Linked DNA regions of Homo sapiens. The protein of the gene in region 1 purifies or fractionates together with the protein of each later gene. This does not show direct contact. Each region holds a gene or a part of one and is shown in the gene's direction. Other genes may lie near its edges. The genes, in order: TSPAN31, FAM162A, ALG14, XPO5, GPR89A, ZDHHC7 and RHOBTB3.

Region 1 (5,239 bases):
GCTGAGCCAGGCAGGAGAATTGTTTGAACCCGGGAGGTGAAGGTTGCAGTGAACTGAGATCGCGCCACTACACTCCAGCCTGGGCGACAGAGGGAGACTCTGTCTCAAAATAATAATAATGATAATAACTTAATTACCTTGTTTCAAGACCCAAACACCTCTCTCGCCCTGTCAAACATCTATTCTCCTGCATACCTTTTTGGTATTAATTTCTGTAAGAGTTTATATAAATACTGTGTAGTTAAAGATAAGGGAATTGAGGTTGGAATTGCCCACAGGAACCTGTAAAATGACCTGAAAAGTAATAACTAACATTGAGTGTTTACTATATGCCAGGTACTGTTCTAAGTATTCTACATATATTAACTCATTTAATTCTTACAACCCAAGAGGTAGGGTGTGTTGTTATTTATCCCCATTTTACAGATGAGGAAACACGCACAGACAGTTTCTAAGTGCCTGGCCAAAGGTTACGCAGCTAGGAAGTGGCAATCTGACTGTGGCAGTAAGTCTATAGAATCTAAGTACACACAAACTTAAATCATTCTGTTGAGTTGATTGGAGGGTTTTCTTTTTTGTTCCTACTGTTTCTTTCTCCTGGGGAAGAGAAGGATTATGCCTTTCCCTACCCCCGTGAGAAGGACGGTTTGTCAAAGCACTTACTAGATAATAAAGTTGTTGATCAGCCTACCCCCAAGTGAAAAGGTGGAGGCTCCTTCCACTTATATTTATGTAAATGAGACTCTTCCTCTTGCCTGCCGTTTTTTTGCAAGCCCTAGATCAGGCGTGTACTCTGAAAATGCTGAGCACACCCCTCTGTGCACTTGTGGCAATGCCACATACAGGAATGCGCTGGCCTGAGGCCGCTATTTCCACACTGAATTTCTGGTATATTCACACCCCTTTAGGAGGAGATATGGAACAGGACATGGGTACTAGAGGACACACAAACGTGTGATGATTTGCTGGGTGTTGCTGTGTCCAACCCGCGGACTCTGCGGCCGGGCTAAATAAGCTCAATATGTGGCTCCTTTGGGTGTTCCCGAGCGTGACGCAATAACAAAACAATGGCGTCATCGTGAGGTCACTGCAGAACAGGGGGAAGGGGGTGGGGAAGGGCCCTCCTTCTACGGGCGGAGCCCTTTTTGCCCAGCTCTCAGAGCGGCCCCCTACCCGCCCCTCCCGCCGTCTCCCCTTCACCTAAGTTCCTCCAGAGCCGTCTCCCTGGGAATTAGCCCTCTCCTAACTCCGACCACAGAAAGCTCAGCTTTCAACCTAAGCTTTTGGAGTTTAGGCTGTAGTCCCTAAGAGAGTCTCTAGAAACCCTGCCCCTAGTTTTAAGTTTCGCCCAATGAAAAAACAAAAGGAGAGGGACAGAAGGCGGGTCGGTGACGTAATGCGGGTTGATTGGCATGCAGGCCTTGGACGTCCAGGATTAGCCACGCATTTCGCCAATCCAGAGGCAGGGGAGGGACGGTGCAGGCGCAGAGTATTGGGTTTGGCTGGCCTCGATTTAAAGAGACAGAAGCTGTCGGGGTCCTGGAAGACGGTCCCCAATACCCTCCCCCCAAGTCCTTGGGACCACTTGGGTCCCCAGAGCTGGGGAGATGGTTTGTGGCGGCTTTGCCTGCTCCAAGAATGCGCTTTGCGCTCTCAACGTGGTCTACATGGTGAGGTTTTGGAGGTGGGGGAAGCTTCAAGGCGGAAAGGCCCCGTGGGGAGAATCTCTAGGGTACTTCCGGTGGGGAGAGGGGTGTATGGGGGTTCCGGGAAGATTCCCAGGAACTTCCGGCGACGAGGGAATTCCTGGGGACTTCCGTGGGAGAGAGGAGACTTCCGGTTGATTAAGGGGGTTTGTCTGAGGGTGGGGGAATGAACTGAAGGCCGTGGGCGTAAGTTCCATACCTCCTTCCTGTGAACCTCAGTTTCTTCCAAACTGGAAGTGATAGGATGATCCTGAGGGTTCATCTTTTGCATTCATACTACCATCCCTGCCACCCCCTCCCCGCCATCCTAGCCATTCTAACCTTTGGGAGTGCCTAGGGATGCTCCCGGTGCGGATAGCACCATCCCCAGCTCCCATTCACACACTATTCCATTATTCCTTCCCCCTGCCCCGCTCCCAAGTCCTCTTGTATGGCCTTGGGCTGTGCCGCATGCTAGAATTGTTGAGATGTATCCTGCTCTTTCTTCGTAGCTGGTGAGCTTGTTGCTCATTGGAGTGGCTGCTTGGGGCAAGGGCCTGGGTCTGGTGTCCAGCATCCACATCATCGGCGGAGTCATTGCTGTGGGAGTCTTCCTTCTCCTTATTGCAGTGGCTGGACTGGTGGGTGCTGTCAACCACCACCAAGTCCTGCTGTTCTTTGTATCCTGACCTGAAGTGATGGGGGCAACCGGGGGCTTGGGAGGGCTGTCATCTAAGGAAGATGTTAGAAGGGTAGGGGACCTCAGGGATCTTGGACACGTCTCCTTGCCCTGCCCTGTCCCATAATCTACGAAACAAGAGCTGATTTTATTGCTTTCAATTTGACATGGTGGTGTAAGTTCTATGAACAGATGAGACCAGACAGTTATTATAGATGAAACATAAAGGAATCTAGGACTTTTTTCCATAACCTTTCCTCTCAGTACATGATCATCCTTGGTTTGGTCTTCATCTTCCAATTTGTAATCTCTTGCTCATGTCTGGCTATTAACCGAAGCAAACAGGTAAGACAGTACCCTTTCAAGTACTTACTTGCTTTTTAAAATTTTCCTCTTAACCTCGAACTCCTTCCTTAGTCTGGCCCCAACTACCCAAAGATCATCCTTAGGTGCACTGCTTCTGGCCTCTTGGGCTATTTGCTTCCTCTGGGATGTCTGGTTAATTTTCCATGAGGATGATCTAGAGAACCTCAAAAGGTAGATATTTATCGTGTCTATAATTGTTGCACACCGTTATGCTTCTGTTTGACTTCCTTTGCTGGGCTAGGGAAATTGAGGCACTTGAACTGATAACAGGATGTAGGGAGACTTAATTTCCCTCTACCCATATCTTTCAGACAGATGTCATCAATGCTTCTTGGTGGGTCATGAGCAACAAGACTCGGGATGAACTGGAAAGAAGTTTTGATTGTTGTGGCTTATTCAACCTCACAACCCTGTATCAACAAGATTATGATTTCTGCACTGCAGTGAGTGTGTTGGGGGTGGTGCAGCAGCCAGGGGAGGTAGGAAACTGGGTAAGGACAATGCCCAAGTTGGCAAATTTAGTTTGAATGTCATTGTTTCTCTCTCTACAAGCCCTCTTGTATTGGGGCTGTGTTGGTGGGAGGTGGGGGTGGATAGAGGCTGGGGAATTAGCCAAGTAGGATTTTAGTTTGTAGGACACTGGTCAGATAACAGTAAAGTTTCTAGGGACATTCGGCATAGGTATTAGTCACTAGCAACTTTACATTCACAACTTTGCATTCTTCACGTTTTATCCTCAGATCTGCAAGAGCCAGAGCCCCACATGCCAGATGTGTGGAGAAAAGTTTCTTAAGCATTCAGACGAAGCCCTGAAAATCCTAGGGGGTGTTGGACTCTTCTTTAGCTTTACAGAGGTAACATTCTCCAGTTCCCTCACACACATCCTTTTTGAGACTGAGAATTAATTGATACTTATCTCTCTCCCTTTGTTCCTACAGATCCTTGGTGTTTGGCTAGCAATGAGATTTCGGAATCAGAAGGATCCTAGAGCCAACCCCAGTGCCTTTCTATGAGACTTTGGATCCTTCTGACTTTTCTTCTGCTCTCTCTAAGCTTTCTCTTCCTCCCTTAGGGAATATCTAGGGTCTGTAACCGTTTTGGTTTGAGAAAAAGGAAAGGCCCCTTGTCACATCCTCTAAAATTGATGGAATAGCAAGACTTTATGCCTTGACATATTTTAGTGGGAGCCAGACTATAAGGAATAAAAGGAAAAACTTTCTTCCTCTCTCTCCAAGAGGATATGGGAAGCTTCTGTGAGTGCATAGGATGGGGGCTGGAGTCATTCTTAGCTGTTTCCCTTCCTCTGTCCATATACTGGATCACCTCAACATACCCTGGTGTGGCTCTAAGGGTAAATCAGGGATAGGGCCAAGGAGAAAACAACCAAGAACTCTTTCCTGTAATAAGCAGGATCCAGTTTGAGAAAGTTTAGCGAATATAAAAGTAAAAGCCATTTAAAAATCTATATTCTTTTTTTTTTTTTGACACAGAGTCTTGCTCTGTTGCCCAGGCTGGAGTGCAATGGCATGATCTCGGCTCACCGCAACCTCTGCCTCCCGGGTTCAAGCGATCCTCCTGCCTCAGTCTCCCAAGTAGCTGGGATTACAGGTGTGCACCACCACGCCTGACTAATTTTGTATTTTTAGTAGAGACAGGGTTTCACCATGTTAGTCAGGCTGGTCTCGAACTCCTGACCTCAGGTGATCCACCCGCGTTGGCCTCCCAACGTGCTGGGATTATAGGCGTGAGCCACCACGCCCCGCCTAAAATCCATATTCAAAGAAGCAATTTCAGTTCCTTTCTAAGCTTTGTCAGTCAAGGGGCTCCACTGACTTCCTAGGCCCTGTAATTTAACCAGTCTTTAAGGTTTTGCAGGAAAGTCCCTTCTTCCAAGTGGTTTTTCCAAATCGCACAATGGCAAAGCCAAACAGAGGAAGAAACATTAAAAAAAAAAAAAAGACCATTATTTCTTTGTTTTGTTTTTCCTGTATAAAAAAGGACCCCAAATATAAAGGTAGGGAAAGGGACAAGAGGGAACATACCCCTTAGTGTAGAGAAATGGGAAGGAGAAGGAGAAGCCTCAAAAGGAGAGGTGGGAGGGGAATGTCATTAAGGCAGCAAAGTAATCTCTGTAGAAAGATGGAGGAGGACCCTCCATAGCCTCAGAGATAAAGGCAAAGATTGCCCTCTCAGTGTCCAGAAGGGAAATGGCAGCTTTTCTTCCTTCCATGGCAGCCACTCCATTGCTCACTCCGGATTACCTTCATCCTTATGTAGATAAGAGTGCTGCAGAGCTCGAAAGGCAGAGATTCGCTTGTGTGGGTTAAAAGTCAGCATTTCCTGAGGGGAGAGGCAAAGGTCAGAAAACCATGAAGAAAACAGACTTCTGCCCACCCACAACAATACCTGGGATGAGCTTTCTTCTTTTTTCTTTTTTTTTTTTTTTGAGACGGAGTCTCGCTCTATCACCCAGGCTGGAGTGCAATGGTATGATCTCAGCTCACTGCAA
Region 2 (4,489 bases), on another chromosome or scaffold:
CTTCAAAAAGGAAGATGAAATCCCAGAGACTGTCTCGTGAGTGCTGAATTTAGTATTACAAGCAGCTTTCATTTCTCACTGATCTAAGGGAAAAGCAATGCCTCTGAGTTCCAACTGTTTAAAACTTTTCAACCAAATTTGAAAACATTTTTCACTTTTCCAAATGTTTTATCTTTGGTAAGTACTTGGAATATAAACAATGCTAGAAAACCTGTGTCTTATCATTGTTAAGTTACACAGTGACTGGTGAAGAACTGTCAGGTACTCTGAAGTCAATTGATTATTTGATTTCATCCCCTGGCTACAGAAGTGTGACTTTTTTAAAGTTTGTTTTTAATCTAGGTATATAAATTAAGTACCATTGACAATGACTGTATTCCCCCAAATCCACTTAAGTACTCAACCTTAGGTGTAAAAGTATTTAATTGCAATATTCTGGAATTCAGGAAAGAGTGCTTCCTGTCACCAACTTCCTTAAACCTAAGGGAAGGGATCTTGGCTGGGATCATGGAACTTTTTCAGAGTTTGTAGATGATGAGTGCAGGTTCCTCCAACCCAGTTTCTCAACTCAGTACTATTGATATTTGGGGCTTGATAATGCTTTGTGGCAGGGGGGTGTCCTATTTGTTGGAAGATGTTTGGCAGCATCCCCGGCTTCTGCCCCCTACATGCCCGTAGCATTGCGGCAGTGCTGACAACCAGAAATGTCTCCAGACACTGCCAAATGTCCAAGGGGCACGAGCGGGGTGGGAATCTCCCCTGGTTGAGAACCAGTGCCCTAGCCTCATGTTAAAGACCCTGACTGGCTGGCATCTTGGCTAAAAAGAGATTCTGAGAAATAGATGTCATCTCCTCTGTGAGGCATCATCCTATTCAGGGACAGGGACTTCAGACAAAGCTCGTGGAAGTTCCCTGTCAGCAAGAAACTATTCCTGGATCTTCTGGTCTCTGGTTTCAAGTCATGATTGAAAAAGATCTGAGCTCATTCAGGATTTCTTTCCCAGGGAAATATGTAGTATTTACTTTCTGTTTACAACAGCTTTAATAGAGCTTTTCTGCTTCTGCCAGTCAAATTGATAGCACATTACTTTAACTAGAATTATTTCAGCAGGAAAGCCCTGGTTTTTCTTAGCTCAAGTCATGTATTCTTCTGGGAAATAAGAGAATACTGGAAATAACAGTGACATCAGGTTCTTGCCTATGCCCTAATTCTTCCTATACCAGCAGAAAATAAGCTGGTAGACACCCATGGCCTTAACAGATGCTGTATAGGCTTTGCTATAGAACACCTTCCTCAGTCTGCCTAATAGTTGGTTCCAAGATCCCCTCAGGCCCAAAATACTACCTCACGAATCACTCTGGAAGGGTCTTTTCTGGGCCTGGGCAGCCATTTGTCCTTGTGCTGGTAGTTCTGAACAGGCACTGCTTAACTTGCCCATTCCTATTACTCCCTATGGAATGGATTACTTTTCATGAGGATCATGGCACTTCAAATCCCATAAAATACCGTCAACATGGGAAGTCAGTTTGTGGTTAGTGGAATCTCAGGTGCTCCTAACTGACCAATTTGACAGTCCTTAGCAGTTGTCTTGGGTTCCTGCCAGCCTGCAGGCCCAGCTTAAGTGCCTGGAGAACCCCGTCCACATGCTGCCTCACAGGTCCCAGCTCCTACATCACATTGTACATGGCTTCATCATCTTCCTCCTTCCACCTGCAACATCCCAGACTCTTTGCCTCCTTCCAAGCATTTTTAAAGTACTCCCCTCCCCAATTTTAAAAGTAATATATGTTAAATATCTCAGGGGAAAGAAAGCACTTCAATCCCATCATCTAGAGATAATCACTTCCTATTTACACATCTACTGAGAAGGCCATAAGTTAATCCTGGGCCCCATAAGGGCTCCACATCCCCTGCCTTGAGGTTCTGCCAGACACCGAGGTAACAGAATCGTGACCACCAGGTGTGGCAATGCATGCCTATAGCCCCGGCTGCTCAGGAGGCTGAGGCAGGAGGATCGCTTCAGTCTAAGATTTTGAGTCAGCAACATGGTGAGACCCCATCTCTTTAAATAAAGTAAATTAAAAATAGAACCATGACTCACTGCCTACTTGCAAAATCACCAAGGTAGATTGGCCTTTAGACTCTTCTATATTAAGCCTCTTAGGTTTCACACAAGAATGATGAACCAACCATCAACTTTTTTTTAAGGCACATGGGTCTGTATTCAGTAGATAGGTTAGAAGAGCTGCACTTTGGCACTTGCCAAAGACCACAATATCAAGTTCACTGTCACTCAATTTTAGCAAAACATTTGTTTAAAAAGATAAATATTGAGGAGCATTGCTTAAAGGATCTTCCTACTATTTTAGATATTCTCAAATCTATTCTGGGTTCAAGACAGAGAGCAAAAAGCTGGGTATATGGAGCACATTGGTTAACTTTCTCCAATGTTTGATCATTCTGAATTGTGCTTTGTGTTGAAACATATGAAGCTTATTGTAGTATCTGTTGTCGAGATGTTTTCAGACGATGACTACATCACATAATGTCTTCTTAAGAACCTCAGGGAGAAATGACTGTTTCACTTCTAGCATTTATAGGCTGCTTGGAAACCTGAGAGCCAAAATTGGGGTCCACCATAGCAAGTGTAGATTAATATGCCTTGCCCATTTTTTTTTTTTGGCTTTGTTCTTGACTTCTCTTTTTGTTTTCTTCTTTTGTACTTAATTGTGTGCTATCCTGTATTTTATACATAAATGAGTTACGAAAAATGCCTCATCCTCCCCAAAGTCCTATGAGATCTCTAGGCCCTTTTTAAAGAGATCTCTAGGTCTCCCTATTTATATTTATAGACACTACTACATTTTGAATTTATACACAGCCTTTTATCCTGAGCAACTTCAGAAAGGGAAAAGTTAATAACTTTCTCTCATGATCTCATTGTATTACTAGGTTGGAGATGCTTGATGCTGCAAAGAACAAGATGCGAGTGAAGATCAGCTATCTAATGATTGCCCTGACGGTGGTAGGATGCATCTTCATGGTTATTGAGGGCAAGAAGGTGAGAAGGGGTTTCTTCTCTATCCAGTATGTATGTTCTCCACCAAGAACCTAGAGTAAATCAGGGATTGACCCTTGTATTTACCCTCTGAGAAGAGGAGGCTACTTTCTACATTACATGAGAAAAGATAAGCAAAAAAATAAGACATATTGGGAACAAGCCTGGAATATCATCCTTGGGGATAGATAGCAAATCCTAACTTTGGCGTGGTGAAGAAGGACTAGATTCATTTTGTGTAATGTAAATTTAAAAAGTGTTTCTGATGACAGGTGTCATAATGTAAATTAAGAAATAGGACACTGGCATATTTAATCACCCACTGCATATTTCCAGAGTGCTCTTGGTACCCAAGTGTATTTACCCTCACCATAACTGCCTTCAGCATGGTGAGCTTTCTTAGCGGGGTTCTTTATTTGAAGCTCAGCCAGACAGGGCCATGTGTCTAAGGACCACAGCTCCTAAGCAGTACATAGGAATACAAGTCCAGAAATCTTTAGCACAGATTATAATTAATAGCTATCACTAATTGAACACTCACTGCATTCCAGGTACTTTTCTAGCTGGTATCTCATCTGAACCTCACAAAAACACTGTAAGATAAGTATTATTAGGACCTGATTTATAGATGAGGAAAACTATAGCTTAGAAAGCTTTAGTAACTTGCCCAAGGCCACATATCTCCTTAATGACGAGCCACAGTGTGAACCTAGACCCAATTCAGGTAATAGGAAAATTCCTCCCATTTATTGAGTGCTTATTATGTAACAGGCACTGTTAAGCTCACTTAATCACCCCCATAACCCTAAGAGGTAAATAGTTTTCCCAAACTCACACAGCTAACAAGTGGCAAGATAAAAATCTAGACCCAAGTTTGCAGGTTACCAAACCTCATACTATACTATCTTGCTATTAAGCCATAGTTATTTTTATATTCAGCAGCTTTGGTCAAATTCTTCTTTTAATACCATGTATAATTCTATATATCACAGCTTCCATGTGGAAAGTGATGTCTTACAACTACTTTAAGATACTAAAAAGGTCCTTCTATACACGCACTCTTAACTGACTTTCTTATCCTCAGTAATTCCAGAGTAAAAGGAAATGTACTTTTGGCTGTCTTCATTCTTGCAGTTAAATGGAAATACTGACCATTTTAGGCTGACCTCATGGGAGTACGAAGGGGCAAATGTGCTGAGCTGGGTGAAGTTCTCTTGAAAACTCTGTTCCCACCCCACTTCATTTTTTCTTGTCTCCCTCTTTGACCTCTCATGCATAGTTCTCAGATTAAAACCAGCAGAAACATGTGGACAGGACTGTGAGCTTCTAGGATTCTGAGAAATTTGCATTGCTTTTGTATACTCGATTGTACTAGCTGAGTTTAAATACTCCAGAAGCAAATTATTCACCTGGAATCTCTTCTAGCATCA
Region 3 (4,489 bases), on another chromosome or scaffold:
TTTTAGTAGTATTTTTTTTACAGAACTAAATATAGAGTTTGTATGATTAGTAATATTTCCTGTCCTACAGCTTTTTTTTTTTTTTTTTTTTTTTGTAAAGTATTCTGCATTGTAAAAGAAGAGAGAAAAAAAGTATTTCTGAGTTTTGGTTCAGATACAAAAGGCTTTATTTCCTGTATGGAAACAGTGATGTCCCCAGTGAATCCTTTCAGCATAAAGGAAGCAGTTATATTAAATTGGCTTCATGACAATTTGCACTCCACAAGCCTCCAGAACCTTGAGCATAAACCAGTATCATTTTTTGTACTTCAGTCTTGCTTTTTGAGTAGTTGGCCTTAATACAGAGTATCTTTTAAAATCTCTTGTTTAGGCCGGCATGACGGCTCACACCTGTAATCCCAGCACCTTGGGAGGCTAAGGCGGGTGGATCACTGGAGGTCAGGAGTTTGACACCAGCCTGACCAACATGGTGAAACCTTGTCTCTACTAAAAATACAAAAATTAGTCAGGCGTGGTGGCACATGCCTGTAATCCCAGCTACTCGGGAGGCTGAGGCAGGAGAATCGCTTGAACCCGGGAGGCAGAGGCTGCAGTGAGCCGAGATTGCACCATTGCACTCCATCCAGCCTGGGTGACAAGAGTGAAACTTCGTCTCAAAAAAAAAAAAAAAAAACAAAACTCAATGATGTAGGGACTGTTATTATTCCCATTTTACAGATGACTTGTCCAAGATCACATGAGTAGTAAGTAGCAAAGCCAGAATTCAAGTTCAGGTAAACCTGACTTCTTAGTGGGGCCAGTTTCACGGGTGTGTGGCCTGTGCAGTCACACAGAGTTCTGCACTGAAGAGGGCCTCCACTTGGTTTAATGTTCTGCTGTGACTCTCTTGAACTTCTGAATATTTTTTTAAACAATGAACTTATATTTTAGACCCTCTGAATTCTTTCGCTGGTCCTGCTTGAGACTGTGTTTCTAGTGGTGCCATGTCTACTGGAATAGAAGTACAATAGTTAGTGCAGTGCCTGGCCCAGGAGCTCCTCAAAAACAGGAATTCCATTTCCTTCCCTCTAACCTCTGCTTCTTTAACAAAGCAGCCAAAAAAAAAAAAAACAAAACAAAATAAAAAACAGAAAAGAGAAGATTCTCTCCTGTAGTATATATAGGTTTTTTCCTCTTAAATCTTTTGCTTTATAAGTATGATATAAATCTAATAAATAGTGATTAGTGAAGTGATTGAATTTTTGTGAAAAGAGACATGATTATCCACGATCATGTAAGATTAAAATCCTGAGGCTGATCCAGCCTTTTTTCTTTTTTTTTTTTTTAAAAAAAAAAAGCAAAAAAAACAAAAAAACTGTCTTCTCTGAATCATGTAACAGGCGCATCTGTCAGCCGGACATCTTCCTAGGTTTTTGGCTGGAGAAATGTGTAGCCGAAGGTGTCTCAGAATGGTGAGAACACTTTGCTGTCTGGATTTAGTGGGCCTGGGGCAGCCAAATGATAGTTCATTGTGCTTTGATTTTAATCCTCAAATCTCAGTCACTGGTTGCTTCCCTGGAGTATCAGAGCGTATTAGTATCATACAACCAGGGGCTGAGGTGAAATAAGCCTTGACTGTTCTAGAAAGAAAGTGATTTTTTCAGGGACAACAGCATCTGCATTTTATTGCTGTTTAAGGCTTTCTCTGCTCTGTACTTTGTTCCCTGAGTGGCACTAGGTAAATGAATGGTAAGGGAAAGTGAACTGCGTTTAGTGAATGCCTCTCTGTGCTGTGGGGCAGCTTCCCTGGGCCCCCACAGGTAATCCTGCTGCAGAGGCTTCTGTCAGGTCAGAGCTTAACAAAGATCAGACCAGAGAGAATTGTAGAAAAGATGCTATAATTTTTTCCAGAAACATATGTCCCAGATGTTTTGCAGAGCCTTAACTTAAGACAGTGGTTAGCCTGGAATGTCAGAGAAAGAATGTGTATGTGTTATATCACCAAAAGTTTAGAAATGTTATATCTTTCATAGGTTCAGGCTGCTGTGTACTCATTCAGAGCCAGGCTGAGACATGTGTTATTGCATCTTCCTGATCATTCAGATTACTCTGGTAAACAAGTGCATGCTCTGCTGTGTGTTACTGTTATGGCTAATTTGAGTCCTCAAGGTCCCATTAGCAGAGGGGGCTGGTGGCACAATTTCCCTGCTGTGCATTTCTGTGACATTCAGAAAGATAGTGCGCCAGTCCCAACTCAAACTGAAGAAGATGAGTAGCTAGCTTGTCCCTTCCAGTTTCTCTTAGAACACTCTGAATGCAACTTTTACTGTAGGAGACTGTTCATGAAAAAATTAATTGAATCAGTCTTCAAATGAGAGGCAGGGAAACCACACATCCTGCCCACACCTACTTCCCTGGAAGATTTCTATCTACAGTCCAGCTATCCTAAAAGGTCTCAGTAGCTTGCCAGGTCAGAATGTCTAACTGTTTCAAAAAGGATGCCCAAAAATCATGACAGGAAACTTTAGCCTGGAACGAAGAGTGCTATGAAACCGTGTCAACAAGAGGAGTGGTGACAATTGTGAGTTGAATAGCAAGATGTCCTTGCTAGGAAGGAGATGACCCAAGCTTCCCCTTATAAAAGCAACTTGGAACACATCATTCTACCTTTCAAAGATACATGGTAAGTTAAAATTGAGAAACGTACCCCTTTACTATACAGTTCCTTGGGTTGAATGAGTGCTTTTTTTTTTTTCTGAAAAGCCCCATCCCCCAAAAGGCATTTGATAGCAATGTATTAAGCACCTTTTACCAACAATAAGAACATCATTGTAAGTGTTAAAGAAAATTGTCCTTCTCCCTACAGGTCAGCGTTTGAGCCTCACGGGGTTTCTTCCCATGACTTCAGCCCTGGCGCACAATGAGCAGACACCCAAATCTTGTCCGCCTTCAACATTCTTTTGTTAGGGCCCATCCCTCTAGCACTCTAAAAACAAATCATCTACAACTGTGTTCCTGCTGCCCACTCATTTTAAACATGAATTTGACATAGCTCCTCCTTTTCGCACTGGAGTAGTTAACTAATGCTAGCCCACTAGCTTCTATCATGTCCCTCAAGCAACAAACTTTGGGATCATTTTTGCTTTTTCACTCTTTCTTTACCCAATTATAATTGGTTGCCTTTTTTGTTTCATTATCCCCAGAATTTTCTCGTCTTCCTCTTCTCTCCTTGAAATTACTTTTACTGTTCCTCTCCTTTGTCATCACCTATTGATTCTGCCTTTGACTTAGTTCATATCTACCCTTTCCTTTTCAGTCCCATAGTTACAACCTAAGCCAGCTCTTCAACAAAAATTTCTTGCTTGATGAGCAAGTTTTATTGAGGAACTGAGGAAACACCTGTGGAAGGAACAAATGAATGATTTTGTTAATTACTTATGTTTGTCTTCAGAGACTTCCCCTCATGCTAGTTCTGTATACTTGTTTCACTTTTTTCTTTCTTTTTTTTTTTTTTTTTTTTTTTTCGAGACAGTCTCGCTCCATCGCCCAGGCTGGAGTGCAGTGGTGCAATCTCACCTTACTGGCTCACTGTAACCTCTGCCTCCTGGCTTCAAGCGATTCTTGTGCCTCAGCCTCCCGAGTAGCTGGGATTACAGGCATGCACCACCACACCTGGCTAATTTTTGTATTTTTAGTAGAGACAGGGTTTTACCATGTTGGCCAGGCTGATCTTGAACTCCCAACCTCAGGTGATCCACCCATCTTGGCCTCCCAAAGTGCTGGAATTACAGGTGTAAGCCACACGTCCGGCCCTTGTTCCACTTTTTATAATATTTACACCACAGAGAGGTTAAGTAATTTATTAAAGATTATAGAACTAGAAAGTGACAAAGCTCAGATTTGAACCAAGGCATTCTAGCTCCAGCCAGGCTTACCTTAATAGCTACGTTAGGTGTTTTTTTTTTTTTTTAAAGAAAAAAGAAAAAATGTCCTCAAAAGGAAATAAATGGGGTAACAGGGTACTATGACGGAGTAGAAGGTAGTTGGTGTTCTAGATAGGGAAATCAGGAAAGGCCTTTCTAAGAAAGTGGTATTTTACCTGAGTTCCAAAGGATAATGCCTTAAATATTTGTCCTCCTTCTACTTCACTCCCAACTTAGATTTTGCCCCACCCACAAAGTCTTTGTCTTCATTTAGCTTGAGCAAATTCTCTAAATAACTCTGTGACATAGCCACCCATACCAAAGGTTAGTGCTGAGTTATATACCATCGAATTGCAGTCCTTGTTCTTAGAAACACCTGTGGAAGGAATAATGAATGCTATTGCTGATTATTTATGTTTGTCTTCAGGGACTGTACCTCATTCTAGTTTTGTATCCTTGTTCCACTTTTGATAGTATTTACACCACAGCTCTGTACAAAACATAGGCACTAATTAAATACATAAATTATTTGGCCAGGCATGGTGGCTCACGCCTGTAATCCCAGCACTTTGGGAGGCCAAGGTGGG
Region 4 (4,489 bases), on another chromosome or scaffold:
ATACAAAAATTAGCTGGGTGTGGTGGCGTGCACTTGTAGTCCCAGCTACATGGGCTCAGGAGGCTGAGGCAGGAGAACTGCTTGAACCTGGGAAGCAGAGGTTGCAGTGAGCCGAGATCATGCCATTGCATTCCAGCCTGGGCGACAGAGTGAGACTCCGTCTCAAAAAAAAAAAAAAAAAATATATATATATATATATATTTAATAGAGATGGGGTTTCGCCATGTTGCCTAGGCTAGTCTCAGACTCCTAGACTCAAGTAGTCCACCCATCTCAGCCTCCCAGAGTGCTGGGACAGGTGTGAGCCACCGCACCCGGCCCTGGTTGGAGTTTCTTAAGATGAAATTCTTTTAGTCCCTATTCTCTCAGCCCTCGAAAGGAAACACTAACTTTTCTTCTTTCAGTTTTGTGAGGAGTTTAAAGAAAAGTGTCCTATCTGTGTCCCCTGTGGCTTGAGGTTGGCTGAGAAAACACAAGTTGCCATCGTCAGACATTTTGGCCTTCAGATCCTGGAACACGTTGTCAAGTAAGGAGCTCTTGGACATTACCACTGAAGTCTGAGAGAACAGATCTTTATATCTTATATAACCTATAGAGATGCTGTTTAGGTGAGTAGAGAAGAGCAATCTCCAAGAAGAGAGGAATGATCCCCTAGATGTTATCAGAACCTCACAGGAGCTCTCATTCAAGATTTAACCTTTCTTTTCTTCAGTTTCTTCATCCATGTAAAGTGTGTGGTACATATTACCCATTCAACAAATATTACCTGCCATTTAGCCAATACTTACTGAGCTCTGACTATATGTCATTAGCCCTCGAAGCCTTTTTAGAGTAATGCAATGTATAGGTCAATGAATCTCTGATTAGGCACTGTGGCTTTCTTTTTTCTCTCTGTCTTTCTGAGTTTGTGTGCCTTCTCTGGGTGGTACATCCAAAGCAGGATTGTATGAGAATAACTGAAAACCCATCCTAACTTGATTGTCCTACCCTCAACACCTATCAGAAGAGGTAGCCTTTAAGACTTAGCCATAGTTTTTCCAGAATTGTTTTGTAAGCCAGCACAGAAAATGACTGATGTCAAAACTGCATTTTCTGAAAAGCAAGTACATTGTTGCAGTTGACCTAGATGTATATTCACTTTTGGCCCATCAATAAAATCATGAGGCAAAGCTGACGTGTGGTACAAATCTTGTGCGGATTCCAGTTAATGGACCACTGCATATATAAAACCTTTTCCCAAGAATTTTTGTGTTAGTATTTTGGTTAAATGTAGATCATTTTTGCCCATTCATTGACAGGTACAAAATCAAAAGTATAATTTCTTAATGAAATCTCCAGTGTAATCAAATGTAGAAATCCATGCTATTCTCTTGTAAAGACAAGACTTCTAAAGTGGTTCTATTGACTTTATGCATTTTGGTGGTCAGGTTTCGGTGGAACGGCATGTCTCGATTGGAGAAGGTGTATCTGAAGAACAGTGTCATGGAGCTGATTGCAAATGTAAGGAATGGGTGGTTGGGAGACATGTTTCCAAGGTAGTTTAGGCAAAGCGTGACTTCTTCAATAGGGAGTTTGTGTAAAAATTCACTGCTTCTAAATAGGTCAGACAGCACAAGAAATCATAATTTAGGCCAGGCACAGTGACTCACACCTGTAATTCTAGCGCTTTGGGAAGCCAAGGTAAGAGGATCACCTGCATCTAAGAATTCGAGAGCAGCTTGGGCAATGCAGTGAGACCCCATCTCTACCAAAAATGCAAAAATTAGCTGAGCGTGGTGGCGCATGCCTGTGGCCCAGCTACTCAGGAGGCTGAGGTGGGAGGATTTTCTGAGCCCAGGAGGTCCAGGCTGCAGTGAGCTGTGATGGTGCCATGGCACTCCAGCCTGTGCAACAGAGCAAGACCCTATCTCAAAAACAAAACAAAACAAAAGCAGAAAGCATAATTCAGCATATGTCTCTTACTAGGTTTAATTAATCATGCTTATGTATTGACTTCTATTTTTTAAATTATAAAGACAGGGCAGAGGGGATTAAATATTTTCAACAAATCAATAAGATTCTTAGATCTAAATTAGATTGAAACACTATTTTCTTTTATTCCAAACAACTACTATGTGATACTAATGATGAAAAACATGCAGAATTTTAAGTATGCAGAATGAATTTGTTTCAAGTATTAGAATATGACTTTTTTTTTTTTTTGAGACAGAGTCTCTGTTGCTCCGGCTGGATTGCATTAGCATGATCATAGCTCACTGCAGCCTCGAACTCCTGGGCTCAAGTGATCTTCTCGCCTTAGCCTCCCAAGTAGCTGGGATTATAGGCATGTGGTACCATGCCCAGCTAATTTTGTTTTTGGTTTTTAGAGAGACAGGGTCTCACTGTGTTTCCCAGGCTAGTCTGGTCTCAAACCCCTGGCCTCAAGCAATCCTCCCACCTTGGCTTTCCAAAATGCTGAGATTACAGGTGTGATGACTGGATGACTGTCTCTTTAAACACAAAACAGAATATGACTTTAAACATGTTCAAAATTGTAGCCTTTTTTCTTTCTTGGTTTTTTTTAAATAACAGACATGAGAGATGGGATCTTCTAATACTTCTGCGTCTTCTAGTGTTAGAACTATTGGTAAAATATTCATTTGCCCCTTCATACCCTTCCATTTTACCAGCTACTCACTATACTCCTTATTTCTATACTCTTCCTCCCTGGCCTTCTGCAAACTGAAACAATCAATATGAGAATCTTTTCATTTTGTAAAGAATAATGATGTCATCCTAGCTCTCGATATGACAGCCTTTTAGGTGATGCAACCCTCACTTAAGCTTTAAGCGGAAGAGTGATTAGCAAGAATGCAGGACAAGTGACTCAGGCTGAAGAACAGGTTCATTTGTTCTGTTTGGTTTAAAAGTAGGCCTGCTGATAAATTTTTTACAACTCTACAGCCCAGCTTTTTTCTGGAAGTCTGGAATCCAGTCTTGCATATCTCTTAATATCTCTTGTTCTTTTTCAGGGAACATTGAACATTTTGGAAGAGGAGAACCATATTAAAGATGCTCTGTCTCGAATTGTAGTGGAAATGATCAAGCGAGAGTGGCCACAGCATTGGCCTGACATGCTAATAGAATTGGACACTCTTTCCAAACAAGGGGTATGAAACACAGCTATATCAGTTTGGTATACTTTTCCTTGGAACAAACTTCAGGGTTTGTTGTTTGATTTTGTTTGTGGGTTTTTTTTTTTGGCAACAGAAAATAGCCTTTGGATATACATAAAATGAAAAGATATTTTAGTTTTTAACTAGCTTATTTCTATTGGTGTAGGAAACACAGACAGAATTGGTGATGTTTATCCTTTTGCGACTGGCAGAGGATGTAGTGACTTTTCAGACACTTCCCCCTCAAAGAAGAAGGGACATCCAGCAAACATTAACCCAGAACATGGAAAGGATCTTCAGTTTTCTGCTTAACACACTTCAAGAAAATGTAAACAAGTATCAGCAAGTGGTAAGGGATACCCCTACCTATAACATTTCTATTTTCCAATATGAGTGTTTTTGATTAATCTTACAGTAAGGAACTAGGGTGTCTAGGTCAGCAAAATGAAATCCTATTTTATAAGCAAAAAAATAAAAAACTAGGAAATGACAGAAAAACTGGAGCTCATTTTCTTTCTTTTTTTTTTTTTTTTTTTTTTGAGACGGAGGCTCGCTCTGTCACCTAGGCTGGAGTGCAGTGGTGTGATCCCGGCTCACTGCAACCTCTGCCTCCCAGGTTCAAGCGATTCTCCTGCCTCAACCTCCCAAGTAGCTGGGACTACAGGCGCCCGCCACCAGGCCCGGCTGATTTTTTGTATTTCTAGTAGAGACGGGGTTTCACTATGTTAGCCAGGAAGGTCTTGATCTCCTGACCTCATGATCCGCCCGCCTCCCAAAGTGCTGGGATTATAGGTGTGAGCCACGGCACCTGGCCTTTTTTAAAAAAAAAAAAAAAAAAAAAAAAAAAGATAGGGATCTCGGCTTACTGCAGCCTCCACCTCCTGGGATTACAGGCATGTGCCACCACACCTGGCTAATTTTTGTATTTTTAGTAGAGATGGAGTTTCGCTGTGTTAGCAAGGCTAGTCTCAAACTCCTGACCTCAGGTGGTCTACCCACCTTGCTCTCCCAAAGTGCTGAGATTATAGGTGTGAGCCACCGAGCCCAGCCCTAGGTGTTATTCTTAATTTTATTTTCAGAAGTTCTTTAGGAAAATACTAATTTTTTTTTTTTTTTTGGAGAGGGAGTCTCACTCTGTCACCCATGCTGGAGTGCAGTGGCACAATCTCGGCTCACTGCAACCTCCGCCTCCTGGGTTCAAGCGATTCTCCTGCCTCAGCCTCCCGGGTAGCTGAGATTACCGGTGCCTGCCACCATGCCCGTCTAATTTTTGTATTTTAGTAGAGATGGTGTTTCACCATGTTGGTCAGGCTGGTCTTGAACTCCTGACCTCA
Region 5 (4,489 bases), on another chromosome or scaffold:
TCAGCTAACAAGTCCTTCCAGAACTATTTCAGAAGTATGTATGAATCTATCTAAAAAGATTAGAGAATCTATCTAAAAAGATTAGAGAGCCCATCTGTAATAAATATACTACAGGTTTCATGCTGGAACCTTTTTAAAAAAATCTATATATATATACCTCTTTATTCACCATCCTGCCGTACCTATTACTAGGCTTCTTATTGCAGAAAACAGAATCTACTGTAACTAATTTAAAGCAGAAAGTGATTAATTATACAGTATCAGGCAATTTATAGACTTTCTAGGAAAGTAGGGATGCAAAGCTTAACTGCTATATAGTGAAGAGAAATACCCAACTATGCCACAATACTAAACTAGAAAACCTCACTGAAGTTATCACCTGCCACTCAGGGTCTATGACATCAGGGACCTCAGTCCCAGCTGTTTGAGCTCCTAAGTGCTATCACCACCCCTACATTGTTCATTTCTGCATCTGAGGCCTCACATGGGCCGGGTTTTTTGGTGAAACCTAGGTAATATTTAAAACCTTGGCCTCAAGGAAGTCTGAGAAGGGGCTTTTGGCTTTCTAAACTCTGTAGTACCAAAACAAATGCTGGAAAAGGATATTGGAATTAATGTTGAATGAGCCAGTGTCTATTATAGAATCTGCCATACCTCCCACACACCCTTCCATGTATACTGATTGCCTATAGCAGGAATTTCGGGAGAGAGGTTATGAGACTCTCCTGCAGTAAGATCAGAGGAGATATGCAGTTTTGAAAAGCATATGCAATACCATAAATAGTTGTGTATTTTTAAAATAAGAATAACTTTCAAAATTTCAAATAACGTTAAAGGCCGGAAAACTTAACATAACACCAGCCTGCCAAAAGCATTCAAACTCTTAGGTGGCGTATGAGACCTTTCATGACCTGGCTGCTGCTCTCTATACATGTTGCATTCTCCAGTCCTGTGAAATTATTTCAAGTTTCTTTTTTTTTTTCTTTTTGAGACAGGTCTCACTCTCACCCAGGCTGGAGTGCAGTGGCATGATCTTGGCTCACTGCAACCTCCGACTCCCAGGCTCAAGTGATCCTCCTACCTCAGCCTCCTGAGTAACGGGGACTATGGGCGCATGCCACCATACCCGGCTAATTTTGGTATTTTTTCATAGAGATGGGGTTTCTCCACGTTGCTCAGGATGGTCTCGAACTCCTGAGCTCAGGGGATCAACCCACCTCAGCTTCCCAAAGTGCTGGGATTACAAGTATGAGCCACCACACCCAGCCTCAAGTTTCTAGAGCTGTTCTATCAGCCTGGACAATCCTTCACCAACCCTGTCTACCTAGAAAATGCCTATTTATCCTTTCTAGATTCAACTCTTGTCAATTCCTTTAGGAAGATTTTCCTGGCCATCATTAGGAGATATTAATTGCTACCATCTCAAGGTATCTATATCATCTATAAAACTTAAAATTTCATGTTTCCTTTTCTAACTTCCTCATCAACCTATGGGCTCCCTGAGGTCAGAAAACTCCATGTTATTTGTCTTTGTATCCCCAGTGCCTAGTGTGGAAACTGACACATAACAAGTGTTTAATACGTGTTCTTTGAATCAGTGGATGGAAGAAAATTGAGTCTCTCCAAAGTGGTAGATGAGTTTACTACTTTAACACTCTGGATAGGAATTTAGGAAATGCTAATGTGATCAGCATGCCTATGTCAATGGTCAACAAAGGGAACGACTTGCACTAAAGAGTCCTGGTAGTATAGTTCTCATATAAACCTATTTCAAAGAAACCCACAGACAGACACATTTATCTGTGACGGTAGAAGTCAGAGAGAAGAGTTAGAAAAGGCCCCCAGGGCTGCTGACAGGGCAAATACAGTCTCACATGCACTACAAAGACCCGACTCTGACACCTTTCTCCAGCTTTCTCCTGTGTGCATTCAGCTCACATGACCAGTGCAGCCAGGCCGCACCAGAGGGAAGATGAAGGCCATTGTATCTATTGTCCTTTCATCCACCCCTTTTTCTAAATTCTATGGGATTACCCTGAAAAGGACACTGAGGGAGAAAGCTAGGGAGATAGTTTCAGTTTTATTCTTTCCATTGTACTCCAATAGGCATTACAGTTTTATGCCTGAATGTTCAGGTATCTTAATTTATTTAACCCTTTAAGATAAGTAAGGAGGAAGAAAAGTTTAGGTAGTAGCTGAGAAGCAACCAGCCTTACACTGCCTTCTTAGAGCTTTCCCAGGACTGTCCCAACAACCAGTATGGTTGTTTATTGCTGTGGTGACCACAAAAAAATGGGCTGGGCAGGTTGGCTCACCCCTATAATCCCAGCACTTTGGGAGGCCAAGGCAGGGATATCACTTGAGGCCAGGAGTTAGAGACCAGCCTGGCCAACATGGCAAAACCCCATCTGTACTAAAAATAGAAAAATTAGCCAGGCATGGTGGTGCATGCCTGTAATCCCAGCTACTCCCCGGAGGCCGGAGACACAAGAATTGCTTAAACCCAGGAGGCTGAGGTTGCAGTGAGCCGAGATCGTGCCACTCCCCTCCAGCCTGGGCGACAGAGCGAGACTCTACAAAAAAAAAAAAAAAGATAAGACCAATCCTTATGTAAAATGAAAAAAAGATAATCTGTAAAAGTACTTCTTGTGCGGTGTCTGAACCAACCTTGGAATGTCCTTAGTGGGAAAGAGTAAGAGAGATTACAAAAGACTGTAAGGAATCTGTGTGAGCAGGTGGCAAAGGTGAGATGATCTTCTGCTAGTCTCCTTATTCATCTGACTTTCCATGTATTAACTGCTAAATGGGGATAATGATGACTGACTCCTACTTCATAGAAATGCTGAGATTAAGTAAATAGTATCTACAAAGTACTTTAAACCAGAAAAAGATATGTAATAAAAGGACAAAGACACCATGTTAAAAGGAATAAAGGTAGAGGGGGAATTTTTTCAGTTTTTCAAATTTAATAGCCCATATTAATCTCTTGGATTTTTTATGTTACTGAGTGATATTATAGTCAACAAACATTTGTTGAACACCTCATATGTGCCAAGCAGTAAGGAAAACAAAGATCAATAAGAAATGATGTCTTCTTGTAAAGGGGTTGCAAATTCAAGAGGTATACGGCAAGTAGAATAACAGAATTTAGGTGAGGATTTATTCGTTCATTCAGCATTACACAAATATTTATTGAGCATCCACTTTATATAAATTAAGCACTGGAAATAAACCACAAACGAAACAAACTTGGTTTCTGCCCCCCTGAAATTGATAGTCTTGTGGGTGGAACTAGACAATAAAGAGGTAAATATATAAATAAATAATTGCCAATTGTGATCATTGTCATCAAGGAGTGAACAGGTTGCTGTGATAGAGAAAAATGCCGATAATGTAGTGCAAACAGTTAGATCCACCCTTTCTGAGACAGGGATATTTAAGCTGAGATTTAAAGGACAAGACCAAAGGAAGACCCAGCAAGAAGGCACAGGAGACATCATGTAAAGCCCTGAGGCAGAAAGACCTTGGTGTATTCAAGGAAAGGCAAGAGATAGAATGGAAAGTAATCGTATAGTGTATAGATTTTATTGTTAGGGTGATTATGTCATTTTCTAAGACAGGTAATGCAGAGGAAGGAACAAGTTGAGGGGAAAGATAATTTTAGTTTGGTATATGCTGAATTTGAGTTACTTATGCATATCCAGGTGATGTTAAATAAGCAATTGGATGTACAAATCAGGAGCTTAGGGAAAAGGTGTACATGTATCAGTCCTCATAGAGATGACTCCAGGAATCTAAACAACTAGAAATCATCAACTAAATGCCATTAGGTGAAGCTGGGGAAATTGGTGAGATCACCTAAGCAAAAAATGTGTATACTGAAATGAAAGTGAGAACTCTGGTCCAGACAGAGCAAGAAGTGACCAAGAAAAAGCAATTAGAGAAGTAAAAGGGAAAACCTAGGGAAATGGTGTTGTGGAAGCCAAGAAGATAAAATAATTTTAAACAAAAATGATTCAATGTCATAAAAGAGCCAATGAAACAAGGATTGGAAAATGTTGAATTTTGCAACCAGGGGAAAACTTATTACCATAGTGTCGTAGTGGTTAAAGCCCAGACTCTGGAGCTAGACTGCACTTGAATCCTGACTCTGCCCCTTTTATCTGTGTGGCCTTAACTAAGTTACTTAACCTCTCTGTGCCTCCATTTCTTCATCTGTAAAATTAGGTTTTCAATAATATCTACCTCATAGGATTGTTATGAGGGTTAAATGAATTAGAACATGTGAAATGCTTAGAACAGTGCCTAGTCATAGCAGGTGCTTGGTGAATATTACCTATTGCCATTACAATTACTAGTGAAAGTAATTTCATTCAATAAAGAAGAATGGGAAGAAAGCTGGATTGCAGTCAGTTAAGGAATGAACTGGAGGTGAAGAAAAGGTGACAATAACTATAAACTTCTTTTAAGAAGCCTGGCTATTAAGGAG
Region 6 (3,500 bases), on another chromosome or scaffold:
AAAGGGGAACCTTTGGGGTACGAGTAAGCATTCCTTGGAGGCCACCTCATCTGGCCTGCGTGCTCTAGTGAGGTCCCGCGCACATGTTTTCTGGACCTGAAGTTGTGACTTGCCTACAGGTGGGGTTTTTCTCTTCACCCCCGTCTCCCTCTTTCTCTATAACCCTTGTGCATTTCTCTTCTACTCCTTTTCTGCCAGGCTCCTTTGGGCCTCTGGCCCACTCCCCTGGCAGATCTTATCACACGCCCCTGTCGTTTGCCTGTGGACTTCCTTTCTACTTTTTCTTGTCTCCCTCAAGCACCCTCCTTCCCTTACTTATTCACTCAAGAAATGTTTGTGGAGTGCGTGGTGAACCCGGGAGTGCTGGGGATACTATGAGTAACATTCCATTGAGGTGATGGCAGAACAAGCAGCCAGGGAGAGGCTGCTAGGAAGGGAGGCCAGCAGGCTCCAGATGGAGTGGGGCTTTCTAGGCCATGGTGGTGGGGTGGAGTGGGGGGTGGGGTGGGATTTTATTCGCACTGAAAAGGCAGTGATTGCATGAGCTTAGGGAGGGGAGTGACATGATCTGATTTACGTCTGTGGAAGACCACTCTGGGTGCTGCATGGGGGACTGGACTGTTGGGTGAGCAGAGGCATGAGAGTAGAGAGAGGACTGGTCAGCAGGTGATCTAAGCACTCCCCAGGTGAGAGCTCATGGGACCTTGGTCTGGGCGGGTGAGGAGGTGGGAGAAGTGGTCGGATTTGGGGTAGGTTTAGAGGTGCACCCCATAGGACTTGCTGATCAGCTAGATGTGGAGAGGTGGGGAATGAGATACATGAAGGGCGGGGCCTTTTTTTTTGGGTGTGGTGTGCCGTTGATTGAGATGGGAAAGAGTGGGGTCGTGACTGAGTGGGGGAGGTTCTGCTTTGACCCTCCTGCCCTGGAGTTGTTAAGTGGCCAGTTGGATAGACGCCCTTAGGGATGCATCGTCAGCCTGAGAGTTTTCCAGATATCTTTTTTTGTTTAAACTTCGTGAAACTGAGGTTCCCCATTAGCTCCTTTGTGGAGAGCATGTAGATGAAGGGAAGGCCGAGGACTAAGCCCGGGTGCTCCCGGCGTTTACATGGGTGGAGGAGAAGTATCCAGTCAGAGACCGGGTGTGGCTAGGGGGAAGGGAAGTCAGTGTTGTCCCCCAGGCCCCTCACTCCTGAGACTGGTGTTCCCTCTCCCACTTCCACGGTTCATTGTGTGCTGTGTGTGTTCCCCCACTTTGCCATGTTTTTGATCTGCAGTGTTCTGATCCTACTGTAGAGTGATTAAGTATTTTAATATGAAATGCCCTTCTAGAAAGGTCAGGCAATGTCACTATTCACCGTATGACTTACGTGCCAGCATATCATTGAGATCTGGCTTGAGTTGGGTTAATATTCTGGTGTGGATTTTTTTTTTCCTTAAAAGTAATATTCTGATCTTTGGATTCAGTAATTTGAGTAGAAAATCATGGTTTCTTAGAGCATCATTTCCTATGGTAGGATTTGAAAGGACAAACTGAATATTTCATGATTGCCAGTTGATGGCAAGAGCACTTAGGAGCGCAGTCGCCATCAGCTCACTGCAGTGGGTCAGCTGAGTGCTGCGCTCCTTTTGTGAGTTGAGGGAGGACGTGAGCTCCCTCTGTAGCCTTCCCCACCTTGACTCAGGTTCCCTGACTCATCCGGGCTGGTGGCATACCTGGGATGTGGCCCCGTTTGCACGGCCCATAGGAACCACTGCCTCCGGATCTTACAGCGCCCCCCTGGACCCAGCCTCAGTCCTGCCCCTCACTTCCTCTGAGTCTGTTTCTCAGGCTCCTCGGGCCCTCAGTGCCCTGAGTTTCGGTCACTTGGCTTACCAGGCCTCTCCTCCTGCCCCCTGGACTCTGAGGTTGGCCTCTCCCGCTTGCATCTTGGTCTTGCCTTCGTTACTCTGCTTTTCTAGCCCATCATCCTGGCTAATCTCCAGCCCTGGGTAAGTTTATGGTGCTGGGCTGGGCTTTTGGATAAAAGGACCAGCCATTCCCATCCTCTATGAGACACTTAAGGTGTCAGCATTGTCTGGGCCCTGCAGGGTGACAGTTCAGGCCCCTCTTGGCCGCCGCCTCTCCACCCCATTTCCATTTTGCGGTCTCCATAGGCCCTCCCAGCGCCGCAGCCCCGCTCCTCCTCTCTGCTGAGACACTCAGCACTCGTCTTCCTGAGTGAACTGCTTTCACTTCTCTTCATGCCCGGGTTTCCCCTTTCTTCCTCCAGGGAGGAAGGATCATTCCGCTTTGTCGACCATCCCCCCACTCCACCCACGCTTTCTCCTATCGATAAAATTCACACTTGATTCAGATTTCCTCAGCTTTTCCTTAATGTCCTTTCTCTGTCCCAGGATCCCACCCAGGATCACACAGGACATGAGTGGGCACATCTCGTCAGCCCCTCTTGGCTGTGGTGCTTTCTCAGGCGTTCCTTGTTTGGATGACTGGCACTTGGGAGCAGTGCTGTGGGTCAGGGATTTTTTTGTAGGATGCTCTTCTCTTGGGACTTGTTTGATATTTTCCTTATGACTAGACTTGGGTGATGCAGTTAGAGGGCCTGTCTCGCCACAGCCTGTCAAGGCTGTGTTCTGTCCACAGGACTCATTGCTATGGATGTGGCCTTGAACACCTGGCTGACTGAGGTGGTGTTTGCCAAGTTTCTCCTCAGTAAAGTTATTTTCCTCCTTTCCGTACTCCACTCGTTAGAAACTGTCCCTGTGAACGGCCATACTTGAGGGGTGGGGAGCAGCGTCCTCCCTGCTGGAGGAGGAGGAGCCACAGGCATTCCTCGGACTCGTGGCGCTGGGTATTTGTCTATTTTCTGTTTATTCAGCCACTGCTTTATATCAGTCTGGACTCGTGCATGTTTACTTGATGCTTCGGGTTATAAAGCAATACTATTTTATTTTCCTGGAAAAAGCTTTGGCCATTGGGAGCTCTTTTACTTGGTTCCTATATCCCTTTCATGAGCCCACCTGTCCCCATGATTGTGTGTGTGTATTGTGAACACTTCATTATTCTCTGGCAATACAAGATGCTCCAAGCTCATCTTGTATATATATTTATTTTTTTTGCCTCAGTCCTGGTTCCTTTTATTTATTAGAGAATGGTATTAAAAACCAAGATCTGTGGTGGCTCACACCTATAATCCCAGCACTTTGGCCGACATGGGAAGATCGCTTGAGTCCAGGAATTCAAGAGCAGCCTGGGCAACTAGCAAGATCCCATCTTGAATATTAAACAACAACAACAAACCAAGATCTGGGAATTAGGTGTGCTGGTGGCTGTTGGTGTGTTGCTTCTAGGCCGTCTCAGCTGACAGAGCAAGTAAATATATGTGTGGATGCTAACCCATGTGTGTATACATATCTGTAGATATTTCCATATGCAACTGCTTGTATCTTCCTTAAACCAAAAACTTAGGTCATTCTAGCTTCCTCCTCTTGCTTACCTGGA
Region 7 (4,489 bases), on another chromosome or scaffold:
TCAGTTCTTTACCATGATTTACCTTCAGGTTTCCATCAAGGAGGACTCTTAAAATACAAGAGTTGAGGTGGAGATTCCGTATCTCTACTCCTGTTTAAACCCTATCTGTTCAAACTTTGGTGATTCCTATGAAGTTGTATTTATTCTTGTATTAAAAATTTTAATGCATCTTCTTATTTATAATCTATATGTTAATATTTGGCTATCTGAGGCACAAGTTGTATTTCTGAGAGTTTCCAGGTACTTTCTTGTGAGTTTATGGGTATTTTCTCCACGTTCTTCTTGTAGCTCTTAAGTTCTATTGCATTTGGTTTATGGTTTTTTAATGCCTTTTTAAAAATTCTGTTGCTTATTTCAGTTTGAACCCATTTTCTTACGTCAACACATATCCTTCTAAAACCTAGTTTTTACAGTGAGACATGTTCCATTCCTGTTACAGAGTCCCTAGACTATGAATCTGGGCCAGGTCTGTACATTAGCTAGAACTGCTCTGTTGAAATCTACTTCCCAAACCCCCACATGTGCTACCAATTCCTCATTCCTCAGTTCTTTCATTCCTGGAAGCGGAAAGCTTATTCAGATGTGTCATCCTACTGTATTTAAGATATTTTGGATAATATCTTAAATCTTGGTCAAAAATAAAATTCTTCATTTTTAAGCATGCTTTGTAGCCAGCTGTTTATTTCTGTGACCTCCCTTTTCCTTCTCAGTCACAGCCCTTAAGGCAATGTCCTAACCTCCTGGTGTTTTGTTATCTGCTCTGGGTTAATCACGTAACAGTAGTGGTGGCTTCTCTAAAAAGCTGAAGGTTCTTATTCTTTTCCCTTGAGATTGCACACATTCATCTGCTAAAAGATAAGGGGAGGAAAAAAACTGTTAAAATGTTATGTGGGATTAGATAAACTATAAATTTATTTCCAGTTCAAAAATTGATTTTATATAATGAATATAAGAGGGACCTGTGAATTTGTGTTTAAATACTCTCACACTATACAGCTTTAAAAAAAAAAAAAAGCATATCCTTGAGTTTTTTTATTAAGGTTTAGAGATTACTAATCTTTCTTCAATTTAGCATTACTTGTTGCTTATTTAATATTTTTGCATCTCCTTAGAAGAGCTATACTTAGCCAAAAGGTGGAAACAACACAAATGTCCATTGACAGGTGAAGAGATAAACAAAATGTGGTATATATGTACAATGGGATATTATTCAGCCTTAAGAAGGAGTGAAATTTTGATATCTGCTACAACATGGATGAAACTTGGAAAATATTACCCTAAATGAGCCAAACATAAAAGGACAAATATTTTAGAATTTCACTTATATGAGGTACCTAGAATAGTGAAATTCATAGAGACAGAAAGTAAAACAGTGGGTGCTAGGATCTGATAGGGATAGGGAGAAAACAGATTGTTTAATGGTACAGAGTTTCAGTTTGGGGTGATAGAAAAGGCCTGGAAATGGATAGTGGTGTTGGGTTGCCCCACCATGTGTATGCACTTATTAGTGACATTTAACTGTACACTTAAGGATTGTTAAAATGGTAAATTTTATGTTACACATATTGTACCACAATAATAATAATAAAAAAAAGAGTTCTATACTCATGTGCCAAAGTTGCCTGCCAGCAAGTTACTGTCATCTGCATTGGTGGTTGGATGGATCAGTGAGTGTCACTGGATGGGCACCAAGGTGATGATGTCAGTGGCCTGCTTGCTTGGAGTTTTCCCTCCATTAGCAGCTATTGGAACTCAGAATGAGGAGAATGGAGCTGGAAATCCTGCTCAGTTTACTGTACATCTCATTAAAAGCAAATATTTAGCCACAGCTTTCTCTTAGAAACATTTACACATTGAAACCCATGCCTTCGGCCGATGGTGTTTCCTCCTCAAAATATTTTTTGGCTTGCTCCTCAGGTGAACTTGTTTTAACATTGCTCACCATCATCTACTACACAGATACAGGTGCAGTTATTGAAGTCCGTGGCTTCAGATTAAAAGCTCAAATTAAATCTTCAAGAACCTCAGATGCAGCCATGCATTGCTTAAAGACGTTTGGCCACTCCGGCAGCCGTAGATTGTTATTCGCTGTTGGCCTGGCTTCTTCCGAGAATGTACTTTTAACGTTATTTGCTAATAGTGCTCCCTCATCCTGTCTGCTGTCACAGTATACTGAAAGCTGCATCAGGTAAAGGCACATTAAACATGAATATGGGCTCTCCGTGATTGCTCCCAGGCCGTTCTCTTGATCTTATCATACCAGTGGCCATTATGTGCAATATTATTTCACTTTTCATTTTTCTTGCAGTTTCACCACTCTGATTGCCTTTCAACCTGGCTACTTCATTTCATTGCTACTAACTACCTCATCTTCAGTCAAAAGCCTGAATTTCAGGATCTTTCAGGTAGATTGCTAATTTCTGTTTTGAAAAGAAAACTTTATGTTCTTTGTTCTTAGATTTGAGACATAAGTTGTAGAAGTAGTACTTTTAGCAAAATAAGAATAGTCAATGTAATAAATTTCTTGTAAATTATGCAGTGTGGTAATTGAGGAAACAATTTATAGTCACCTGTGTTACATAAGTGCCTTAACCTGTGTTACACAAGAAGTTTTCTAATGATTATTTTATAGCTCCATCCGTTTTTAAATGCATTTTCTTTCCCTGAAATAGATAAGGTGACAAAATGTGTCCTCAGGTGACATTTGGTTGTGAAAAGTGATATCTTAGTTCTAACTACCTAAGTCAGCAGCAAAGTTTAAACAGTACAGATTTAAAAATTTTTTATAAAGGAATTTAACTCTTGTTAACTATATTATATTTAGCTTTATTGTACTGGATATCTGTATTTACTGAGTATACCTATATGGGAGTCCCTTATATTACTTTGGAATAACAGTTTTTCATATATAAAAAATGTTGTGAAACTTACTGGGAGTGTATGTAATATGCTTTCTAAGGTAAATTATAAAAATTAAAACCAAAGTGTGAACTACTGAGTACTGCATAAAAAGAAAAAAATGAAAATATAATAGTTGTCAGAATAGACAGTTTAGATGCAGTGGTTTGCTCATGTTATTATCTAGCATAGACTCAAGGAAAATTTGAGCTAAAAAGAAAAGGAAGTGAAAGATTACCTGATCAAGGAGTTTCACAATCTGGACAAATAAATCTCCGTGGAGATAACTGAAGTGTCTTCTAGGGTGGGGGACAGAAAGTAGGGAGTGGGTGAGGAGAAGGAGAGAGAGAGGGAGTAAGGGAAAGGGAAAGAGAAGGCTAAAATTTACAGTTCTTGGACTCTTCCCTCCCTCCTTCAGTCATAGTAGTTCCACTTTATCTGTTTCATATCTTGAGTTCTACCTAAAATTTTACTTCGTAAAAAAGACTCTGCTGGTAAAAGATATAAAAATCATATGGTCAAGATGGTGATTCCACCTCGGTGTAATCCCAGCCAACTTGGGAGGCTGAGGCTGAAGGATCACTTGAACCCAGGAGTTTGAGTCCAGCCTGAGCAACATAACGAGACTTCTGTCTCTAAAAGAAAAAAGAGTAAAAATCTCTTGTTTTTATTCAGCTACTTGTGCAGTTAAAGAAAACCCAGGAACACACAATCCGTTTTTGGGAGATGTATTCAGCCAGTCAACAAACATTATATGTCTATTAGGAGCCTCCTTATATAAGTCAACTATTAGTACAGTAGAGAAGCATAATCACATCAAAACAAAACAACAGTTATTTATTAGCTATGTACTTTGTGCAAGGAAAAAACAGTCAGTTCATAAAGATAAGGCTTGTGTATGCTTGCTGTCAGAAGGAACATTCTTCTATAGTTATTTAAGTAGCTGCTTCTATAGTTATTTAAGAAGCTTGCTAAAAGTTAAATGAATTGCACTTTGGTCCTGGAGCCAGTTTCATTATGTTACCTGAGGTCACTCTTATTTGTAAGAGAAGAATAAGATTATTTTCTACTTACTATCTTGTATAGATATATGGTATATATGGAGTACTATTACAACCTTGGGAGAAGGATGGTCTATAAATCCTTTTAGTTATGAATTTTCATTATATGGTATTACCCAATTACCTATAAAGTATGTTATGACACCTGGCATGGTGCAAAGCAGGACTTCCAGTGCGATGTGAGGTGGCAGGCTAAGGAGGAAACGATGTGTCGATGTTGCCTTCTGTTCCTTTGATGGGAATTAAAAGGGAATCATGAGAACTCTCATTCTGCAGTGCCTCTTCCTGTCCAGGGTCCTGCTATGAGGTGTCATCCTCTTGGGCAGAGGAAAAAAGCGCCTTTTGGATAAGGGAGAATTTAATTGTCTAAATCAATAGTTACTAACTGGCCATCTATGGTTTAGGTGTAGCCTGCCAACGTGTTTTATTGGGACCCCACAGTTAAAAATATATAGTACTGGTATTTAAAAATAACCATATTTTGGCTTCTTTTGAAAAATTGGAAGATCTGGCTACCCCAGGCCCATCAT

Evidence for each region.
Region 2: the proteins of TSPAN31 (region 1) and FAM162A purify together in Homo sapiens (affinity purification with mass spectrometry; one large-scale study listed by BioGRID and IntAct). This does not show direct contact.
Region 3: the proteins of TSPAN31 (region 1) and ALG14 purify together in Homo sapiens (affinity purification with mass spectrometry; one large-scale study listed by BioGRID and IntAct). This does not show direct contact.
Region 4: the proteins of TSPAN31 (region 1) and XPO5 purify together in Homo sapiens (affinity purification with mass spectrometry; one large-scale study listed by BioGRID and IntAct). This does not show direct contact.
Region 5: the proteins of TSPAN31 (region 1) and GPR89A purify together in Homo sapiens (affinity purification with mass spectrometry, with the first as the bait; one large-scale study listed by BioGRID). This does not show direct contact.
Region 6: the proteins of TSPAN31 (region 1) and ZDHHC7 purify together in Homo sapiens (affinity purification with mass spectrometry; one large-scale study listed by BioGRID and IntAct). This does not show direct contact.
Region 7: the proteins of TSPAN31 (region 1) and RHOBTB3 purify together in Homo sapiens (affinity purification with mass spectrometry; one large-scale study listed by BioGRID and IntAct). This does not show direct contact.

What each region holds. Positions count from the first base shown.
Region 1 is NC_000012.12:57,743,548-57,748,786, forward strand, and holds the start of TSPAN31 (tetraspanin-31), read left to right. Parts: upstream 1-1,491; 5' UTR 1,492-1,607; coding exon 1,608-1,670; exon of another isoform or gene 1,671-1,684; intron 1,685-1,875; exon of another isoform or gene 1,876-1,892; intron 1,893-2,197; coding exon 2,198-2,365; intron 2,366-2,628; coding exon 2,629-2,709; intron 2,710-3,041; coding exon 3,042-3,173; intron 3,174-3,470; coding exon 3,471-3,584; intron 3,585-3,668; coding exon 3,669-3,743; 3' UTR 3,744-4,977; coding exon of another isoform or gene 4,978-5,070; 3' UTR 5,071-5,239. Other genes in the region: CDK4 (cyclin-dependent kinase 4), read right to left, coding at 4,978-5,070.
Region 2 is NC_000003.12:122,404,328-122,408,816, forward strand, and holds part of FAM162A (protein FAM162A), read left to right. Parts: coding exon 1-36; intron 37-2,953; coding exon 2,954-3,062; intron 3,063-4,489. UniProt on the Homo sapiens protein: Proposed to be involved in regulation of apoptosis; the exact mechanism may differ between cell types/tissues.
Region 3 is NC_000001.11:94,978,305-94,982,793, reverse strand, and holds part of ALG14 (UDP-N-acetylglucosamine transferase subunit ALG14), read left to right. Parts: 3' UTR 1-4,489. UniProt on the Homo sapiens protein: Part of the UDP-N-acetylglucosamine transferase complex that operates in the biosynthetic pathway of dolichol-linked oligosaccharides, the glycan precursors employed in protein asparagine (N)-glycosylation.
Region 4 is NC_000006.12:43,569,517-43,574,005, reverse strand, and holds part of XPO5 (exportin-5), read left to right. Parts: intron 1-404; coding exon 405-526; intron 527-1,427; coding exon 1,428-1,500; intron 1,501-3,011; coding exon 3,012-3,149; intron 3,150-3,321; coding exon 3,322-3,504; intron 3,505-4,489. UniProt on the Homo sapiens protein: Mediates the nuclear export of proteins bearing a double-stranded RNA binding domain (dsRBD) and double-stranded RNAs (cargos). XPO5 in the nucleus binds cooperatively to the RNA and to the GTPase Ran in its active GTP-bound form.
Region 5 is NC_000001.11:145,624,373-145,628,861, forward strand, and holds part of GPR89A (Golgi pH regulator A), read left to right. Parts: intron 1-4,489. UniProt on the Homo sapiens protein: Voltage-gated channel that enables the transfer of anions such as iodide, chloride, bromide and fluoride which may function in counter-ion conductance and participates in Golgi acidification.
Region 6 is NC_000016.10:85,001,536-85,005,035, reverse strand, and holds part of ZDHHC7 (palmitoyltransferase ZDHHC7), read left to right. Parts: intron 1-452; exon of another isoform or gene 453-686; intron 687-1,792; exon of another isoform or gene 1,793-3,371; intron 3,372-3,500.
Region 7 is NC_000005.10:95,786,454-95,790,942, forward strand, and holds part of RHOBTB3 (rho-related BTB domain-containing protein 3), read left to right. Parts: intron 1-2,308; coding exon 2,309-2,405; intron 2,406-4,489. UniProt on the Homo sapiens protein: Rab9-regulated ATPase required for endosome to Golgi transport. Involved in transport vesicle docking at the Golgi complex, possibly by participating in release M6PRBP1/TIP47 from vesicles to permit their efficient docking and fusion at the Golgi.